Homo sapiens: one gene and its partner. The protein of the gene in region 1 purifies or fractionates together with the protein of each later gene. This does not show direct contact. Each region holds a gene or a part of one and is shown on either strand. Other genes may lie near its edges.

What was found. The genes of interacting proteins can lie anywhere in the genome.
Region 2: the proteins of ZC3H11A (region 1) and AQR purify together in Homo sapiens (affinity purification with mass spectrometry; one large-scale study listed by BioGRID and IntAct). This does not show direct contact.

What each region holds. Positions count from the first base shown.
Region 1 is NC_000001.11:203,851,123-203,854,622, reverse strand, and holds the end of ZC3H11A (zinc finger CCCH domain-containing protein 11A), read right to left. Parts: coding exon 3,499-3,500; intron 2,483-3,498; coding exon 2,224-2,482; 3' UTR 499-2,223; downstream 1-498. UniProt on the Homo sapiens protein: Through its association with TREX complex components, may participate in the export and post-transcriptional coordination of selected mRNA transcripts, including those required to maintain the metabolic processes in embryonic cells.
Region 2 is NC_000015.10:34,966,943-34,971,082, reverse strand, and holds the start of AQR (RNA helicase aquarius), read left to right. Parts: upstream 1-1,340; 5' UTR 1,341-1,469; coding exon 1,470-1,544; intron 1,545-4,140.

The DNA.
Region 1 (3,500 bases):
TTCCTACAATTTTAAAAATTGGCACACATATTAAGAAACCTGGACTTCTATAAATTAAATTTCTTATCTGCTGCACCTTCATGCTTGAAAATTCTAAATCGTTGACTCTAAAGATCAAGTTTATTCATTTATTTATTTTTTATCAGCCTCTTGAGCCAGAGTAGGCCCAGAGAGACTCCCTAAGATCACTTTTAAACCCTCCCTCCTTTTAAAAACTTAATGGCATTGCTTGAGTTACAACACTAAGGAGTAAGTATCCGTGTCAGAAAAAAAATCCTCACATTATAATAATATAAATTCTTACCTAAAGCATATGCAGCTAAAATTGAGCACACTTGTAAATTTGGCAATATATCCAGATGAAAGGTTTCTAAGCCAAATAATAACTGAAATTCGGGCACTTACACGAAAGGCCAATAGCATTCTGTCTGGGGTCTCTTGTCAAGATGGATCCCAGGCTGATATGATGATGTAAGATTACTTAGCTCACAACATCAAGACTTTCCTACATCAGTTTTATTTAAAACACAAACAAGTATTTCTCTTTCTGTAAGGGCAAATGGTTCAAATAATGCGGAACACGAAACATTGACTAATACAAGTGCTTTAAATATGAAACAAAATTATTTTTTAAAAAAGCAAAAGAATAAAGAATATATACAAAAGGGACCTGGAATCTGTAAGCTGATTCCAAAAACGAAATAAGTAGAAAATCCATGGTGAAACCTGAACATTCTACCTCTGCTTTGGAGAAGGGCTATCATACAACATTCAGTCAGCTGAAGATGGATTGGTAGAGGTGTGTCTATACATAAACTTCAGTCATTTTTGCTTGTGCAGAATCATCCCAATCTTCCCAAGACTGAATGGGCAGTCCTGTGGCTTTCTTCCTTTTCCATATTCCCAACAAGGCTACGTGAAGTTCAACTCTTGATGAGCCGCTTACAACAGCAGTTCCTTAGGAGCCAACATGACAGGTGGGTCAGATTTCCCTATGAGAAACAAAACTGGCCACCTACAGCAAAATATCAAAATGGGTAAGTCCTTCCTTCCTCTTCCTCCTGATTATATACAACATATCTCCTTTCAAGACTATTATTTCCATCATGCTTATTCCTTCACAAATCTAAACCTTGAGGTGATATGAAGGAAACCAACATCAAGAAAAGAAAACTCAATTCAGAAATGAAGAAAACTGGCAGGTATACAATACACCCCCAGAGCATCTCAATATCCCTGGCACAGTACAATTCAGTGTACTGCTACAGCCCATAGATAAATATTGGCAGCTTGAATAAGCTCATTTTTTCCCTCAGGTGGTTAAAGGCCACCAAACAAATACTGGGCAACAGGGGTTTGTTGGGAGAGTTAGAAATAAAAAATTAACCAAATTTTGTCCCTGTGTTAATTCAATGCCAGCAAGGAGGCAAGTACTGAAGAAGAAAAAGGACAATTTTCATACTAAAAAAGAATTCCTCTAATCATGTCACCATCTCATATAATGAATCCAGGGAATCCCAGAAATAGAAAATTAGTTTCAGGGGACCCCTGAGGCACTTTAAAGCCTTTTAAAAAATTACAGTAATAATAAATTAGATATTGCTCTTCAGAGGCTAACAGAGCAGCAGAAGCATCAAGATCAGGTCCAAAGAGTTATGCCCACATTACAGGCTTCCTGAGCTGCTCAGCCCTCTTTAAAGCTTAGTTGAATCTTTAAATACCTTTAAAAAGACATACAATTTAACACAGACTGAGTGGGTATTTTTGTTTAGTGGTAGCATAAAATTTGGTCCTTAATGGTAGCAGCTGTCTTCATCCATTTCAAACTCAGGTAATATTAAGTACATCAAGACAATACATAAAGAATACAACAAAGAAGAAAAAAGCCAAAACTGACAAACACCTCAAGGAGTCACTAAGTTCGCTTGCACCCTTTCACTTGATCTCCCTCTCAGTCTCTTTTTTGTGGAGAGAAGGGTATGACAGAACTTTTTTCTCAAAAGATGATAAACAATGGCATCAAATGGACAAAATGGTTATAAAGTAACTTTAAAAATCTGACCCCAAGGAATCCAGGACACATACAGATAATTCAGAGGTATACTTCTGATTTGGGGCAAATTCTAGACTAAAGAAATGATCATCTCAGGTAAATGTTACAATAGATGAAACTAAGTCCAGTTTTTTGGCGATTTTTTTTTTAAAGTGTCCTCACTACCACCTTCAGCTATCAATCATTTCTGATAGCTCAAGCAGAAGGTCATCTTCATCTTTCCCAGGATCCAGGTCAATCTCAGCTTCCAATTTGCCTCCTGAAATCTCCCATATTAGTTTCTCAAAATCATCCTCCACAGAGAGTGGGGGCTTTCCTGTTGAGGCAGAGCTGAGTCGGCGAGTTTTCATGCTCATTTGGGATGAGGAAGGGCCAGACACCTCCGGGGGTGAGGAATCTGAAGAGGACTGGGTTGGAGGCAGCACAAGACTGTAAGAAAAAAAAGATTATTAGAAAACTGCCGTTTTAAAAATAGTTGGCTGAATCACCTAGTCTCACGGACACAAAGTGAGCAAAAATTTGTTTTTAAGAACATACATAAAGAAATAATTCTTTTACTGATTTGGGATCAAGCTTTTTTTTTTTTTTTTTTTTTTTTTTTGAGGCAGAGTCTCCCTTTGTCACCCAGGCTGGAGTGTAGTGGTACAATCATGGCTCACTGCAGCCTCGACCTCCTGGGCTCAAGCGATCATTTTGCCTCCGCCTCCCAAGTAGCTGGGTCTACAGGTGTGTGTCACCATGTGATTTTTTTTTTATTTCTTTGATTTTTATTAGAGACAAGACCTCACTATGTTGTCCAGGCTGGTCTTGAACTCCTGAGCTCAAGTGATTCTCCAGCCCCAGTCTCCCAAAATGTTGGGATTACAGGCATAAGCCGCCTTGCCTGGCCAGCACCAAGCATTTTTATAACTCAAAGTAGGTGTTAAAGACATCTTTCAGGGGCCGGGCATGGTAGCTCATGCCTGTAATCCCAGCACTTTGGGAAGACGAGGAAGGTGGATCACTTGACGTCAGGAGTTTGAGACCACCCTGGACAATGTGGCAAAACCCTGTCACTACTAAAAATACAAAAATTAGCTAGGCCTTGTGGCAGGCACCTGTAATCCCAGCTACTTGGGAAGCTGAGGCAGGAGAATTGCTTGAACCCGGGAAGTGGAGGTTGCAGTGAGCAGAGATTGTGCCACTGCACTCCAGTCTGGGTGACACAGTGAGACGCTGCCTCAAACAAAAAAACAAAAAAACATCTTTTAGGTAATATAGCAAAATGTAAACAATGGCACCAAAGAAGAACAGCAACCCTAGATTTTCATACTTTCTTGCAATTAATTTGAAGTGCAACAGATTTATTTGAATGTTGCTAAAGTTATTTATCAGTGTTATTCTCTAGAGAGCCTAAACAGTAACAGGGGCCTGGAGTTTGTTTAGAAAGAATTACAAAGTATTACCT
Region 2 (4,140 bases), on another chromosome or scaffold:
GGAACGAATGTTAAGCAATAAAAAAGGAATGAACTACTGATACATGCAACAACATGAATCCATCTCAAAATCATTTCGTTGAGTGAAAGAAGGCATGCACTGTATTATTTCATTTATATAAAATTCCATGAAAAGCAAACTATAGTGACAGAAAGCAGATCAGTGGTTGCCTGAAAAGTGGGTGGGAACAGTGAAAGGCACAGATAGCAAAAGTTCACGAGGAAACTTTTAGAGGCTTTGATATGCTCATTATGATTTTGGCAATAGTTTCACAAATGTATGTTCATGTCAAAACGCATCAAATTTTACAACCTAAATATGTGTGGGTTATTGTATGTGAATTATTTTTATTATTATTTTATTTTTATTTTTTGAGGCTAGTCTCGCTCTGTCACCAAGCTGGAGTGCAATGGCGCAATCTCGGCTCACTGCAACCTCCGCCTCCCAGCTTCAAGTGATTATTCTCCTGAATCCGAGTAGCTGGAACTACAGGCGCGCGCCACCACGCCCGGCTAAATTTTGTTTTTTAGTAGAGATGGGTTTTCACCATGTTAGCCAGGCTGGTCTCAAACTCCTGACCTCAGGCAATCGGCCAGCTTCAGCCTCCCAAAACGCTGGGATTACAGGCGTGACTACCGCGCCTGGCTGGGTTATTGTATGTCAATTTTTACCTCCATAAAACTGTTAAGGCCTGTAATCCCTGCACTTTGGGACCCTGAGGCAGGCGGATTACCTAAAGTTGGTGAGTTCGAGACCAGCCTGACCAATACGGAGAAACCCTGTGTCTACTAAAAATACAAAAATTAGCTGTGCATGGTGGCGCATGCCTGTAATCCCAACAACACGGGAGGCTGAGGCAGGAGAATCGCTTGAACCCGGGAGGCAGAGGTTGCTGTGAGCCGAGATTGCACCATTGCATTGCAGCCTGGGCAACAAGAGCGAAACTCCGTCTCAAAAAAAACAAAACTAAACTAAAACACTGTTAAGGGCAGTTAAAACCCAGCCCATATTCCCAGGCTGTTTTTTTTGTTTTGTTTTGTTTTTTCTTTAGGGTTGAAAAAAAACTAAATCCCCATTCACCGCACACGGCACTCTTCACTAACCACGAGAAACCCCACCCAACACCATCCACCGGGTCCCTCCCTTGCCCTCCTAATCCCGCCAGCGAGGTGTCTTCTCTCTGCCGCCCGCTAGAGGGCGTGTACAGAGGAGGTCAAAGCTCTTGGCTCGCTAGCTCAGCCCCAACGCCTGCATGAACTTCCGGCTACACGCCATTCCGCTTCCCGAGGAACGCTTGGGCTGTTGTACGGGTTCCCTACGGGACTCTGAAGGCTGAGGATATCCGGCCCGGAGCGTTTGTGCGGCGCGGAGTTAAGCGCCCCGGCAGTAACTTAAGGGAAGTGGACCAGGGTTGCCGCTGCCCAGAGCGGTCCTTTAGTTTCCACTGGAGTGGAGGGAAGAGTGCTGCCATGGCAGCCCCTGCGCAGCCCAAGAAGATCGTGGCCCCTACGGTGTCCCAAATCAATGCGGAGTTCGTGACCCAGGTGAGCTCGGGCGAGTCTGGTGTGTGTGAGTGGGTATGGACGTCGTGGCCCCGAGGCCTGGTGGTGGGGTTTTTTTTCAGGATTTAGGAGTCCGGAGGAGGCATTCGTTTGTTAATTGATTCACACACGTCTTTTTACTGAGTATCAGCTCCGTGCCGGCCACTATGCTAGGTGCTGGGCATACCGTGGTGAAAGAAGCTGCCCTGCCCTGGGGAGTTCATGGCCCAAGGAAGACAGACGCATGAAAATAAAACTACTGTATGAGTTTTGCTGTGTTGGAGTTTGTCTCAGGAGCAATGGATTCAGAGAGGAGGGAACACCCCAGTCTATCTGAGACTGGCAAGTAGGCTTCGCAGCAGAGTGATGCTGGACTGCCTCTTCAAGTAGGAGTAGGCTTTTTCCTGGTCCTTAGAGTGTCCTGAGTTTTTGAGCAGCGATGAGAAACTGACAAGACACCTCCAAATAGACCTATCTAAAAACAGAGTAATTCTGTAGTTTGAGAGCGTTCATTTAGAATCTGTTTACTATCTTGCATTGTGAGCCACAGTTGGCTTTGGATAGGGAACCACAGTCCTGTGGTTGTCAGCATCATTCCTCATTCTTATTATTTATTTGTGAATTGCATAAGAGTGTAAGTAGTTCAATGTAGAAGTTATCATGCCCACCTGCTTCTTTATTCTTTATTCCTTGTCTCAACAGATTTGCCAGGGCAGAAGCCTAGGGAGTGATTTTGAATCCTCCCTTTCCCTTAGTCCCTACATTTCTACATTCTAAATATCTTTTGAATCTATCTGGTGTTCTACATCTCTGTCACCCTAAGCTTGGTTGCCATTGTTTTCTGCCTGGACCAAGGTATCGTAATCTGTTATATTGTCCTTCCTCTTGCTCTGCTCTAGCCCATTCTTCATGTTGCTTTCCGAGTGATTTCATACAAGTGCAAATCTCATCATATCACTTGCCTTCTTAAAATTTCTGCCTTCCGGCCGGGCGCAGGGGCTCACGCCTGTAATCCCAGCACTTTGGGAGGCCGAGGCGGGCGGATCACGAGGTCAGGAGATCGAGACCATCCTGGCTAACACGGTGAAACCCCGTCTCTACTAAAAATAAAAAGAAAAAAAATTAGCCGGGCATGGTGGCAGGTGCCTTTGGTCCCAGCTACTCGGGAGGCTGAGGCAGGAGAATGGCGTGAACCCGGGAGGCGGAGCTTGCAGTGAGCCGAGATCGCGCCACTGCACTCCAGCCTGGGCAACAGTGCGAGACTCCGTCTCAAAAAAAAAAAAAAATCTCTTCCTTCCTTTCCTTCCTTTTCTTCTTTCAAGATAGGGTCTCACTATGTTGGCTGGGCTCCAGTGAGCCTTCCACCTCAGCCTCCCTTGTAGCTAGGACTACAGGGACTACACTAAGGCTGGCTGTCCTTAAAATCTTCAGCCGGGCGCGATGGCTCATGCCTGTAATCCCAGCACTTTGGGAGGCCGTGGCAGGTCGATCACCTGAGGTCGGGAGTTCGAGACCAGCCTGACCAACATGGAGAAACCCTGTCTCTACTAAAAATACAAAAGTAGGCAGGCTTGGTGGTGCATGCCTGTAATCCCAGCTACTCGGGAGGCTGAGGCAGGAGAATTGCTTGAACCCGGGAGGCGGAGGTTGCAATGAGCCAAGATCGCACCATTGCACTCCAGCCTGGGCAACAAGAGCAAAACTCCGTCTAAAAACGAAGCAAAAAAAAAGAAATCTTTAAAGAATTCTAATTACCCTTAGGTTAACGGCTGAAATCCTTCATAGTGTTGTGTGATTTGACCTGTGCTTATATCTTCAGTTTCCTCTTTTTCCTCTTCCTTTCTAACTCTGTGCCTTAGCTGTACAGAACTTCGTTTATTTGAATGTGCCATGCTATCTTTCATCTCCTGGCTTTTCAACATTGTTCCTCTGCTAGGAATCCTCATTTTTTTTCTCCCCACCTTCCTTTATTCATTCTCAGCCTTCTACACTACTTTAGAGAGGCTTTTCCTGACAACTTAAACGAGATTAGAGGTCTCTTTCCCCATATACCTGCATTTTTGCAGTAGAAGTCATTTATTAGTTTACTTCTGTCATGGAACTCACATTTTAGAGGGAAGAACCAGACAGATGAACGGTATAGTTTCATACACTGATAAATGCTATGAGGAAAATGAAACAGGGCTGTGACAGACTGGTTTGAGGTGTATGAAAGACAGTCAGGAAAGTTCTCTCCGAGGTGACATTTGAGCTAACACCTGAATGCAAAGAAGGAGCCAGTTTTGAGAAGAGCAAGGAAATAGCAAGTACACACACCTTAAGGTGTGAATGTAAAGAAGGCCAGGGTGGGCCGGGTGCGGTGGCTTGTGGCTCGCAGTGGGATTACACCTGTAATCCCAGCACTTTGGGAGGCTGAGGTGGACGGATCACCTGAGGTCGGGAGTTCGAGACCAGCCTGGCCAATATGGAGAAACCCTGTCTCTACTAAAAATACAAAATTAGCCGGACGTGGTGGTGCATGCCTGTAATCCCAGCTACTCAGGAGGCTGAGGCAGGAGAATCACTTGAACCCAGGAGGCAGAGGTTGCAGTGAGCTGAG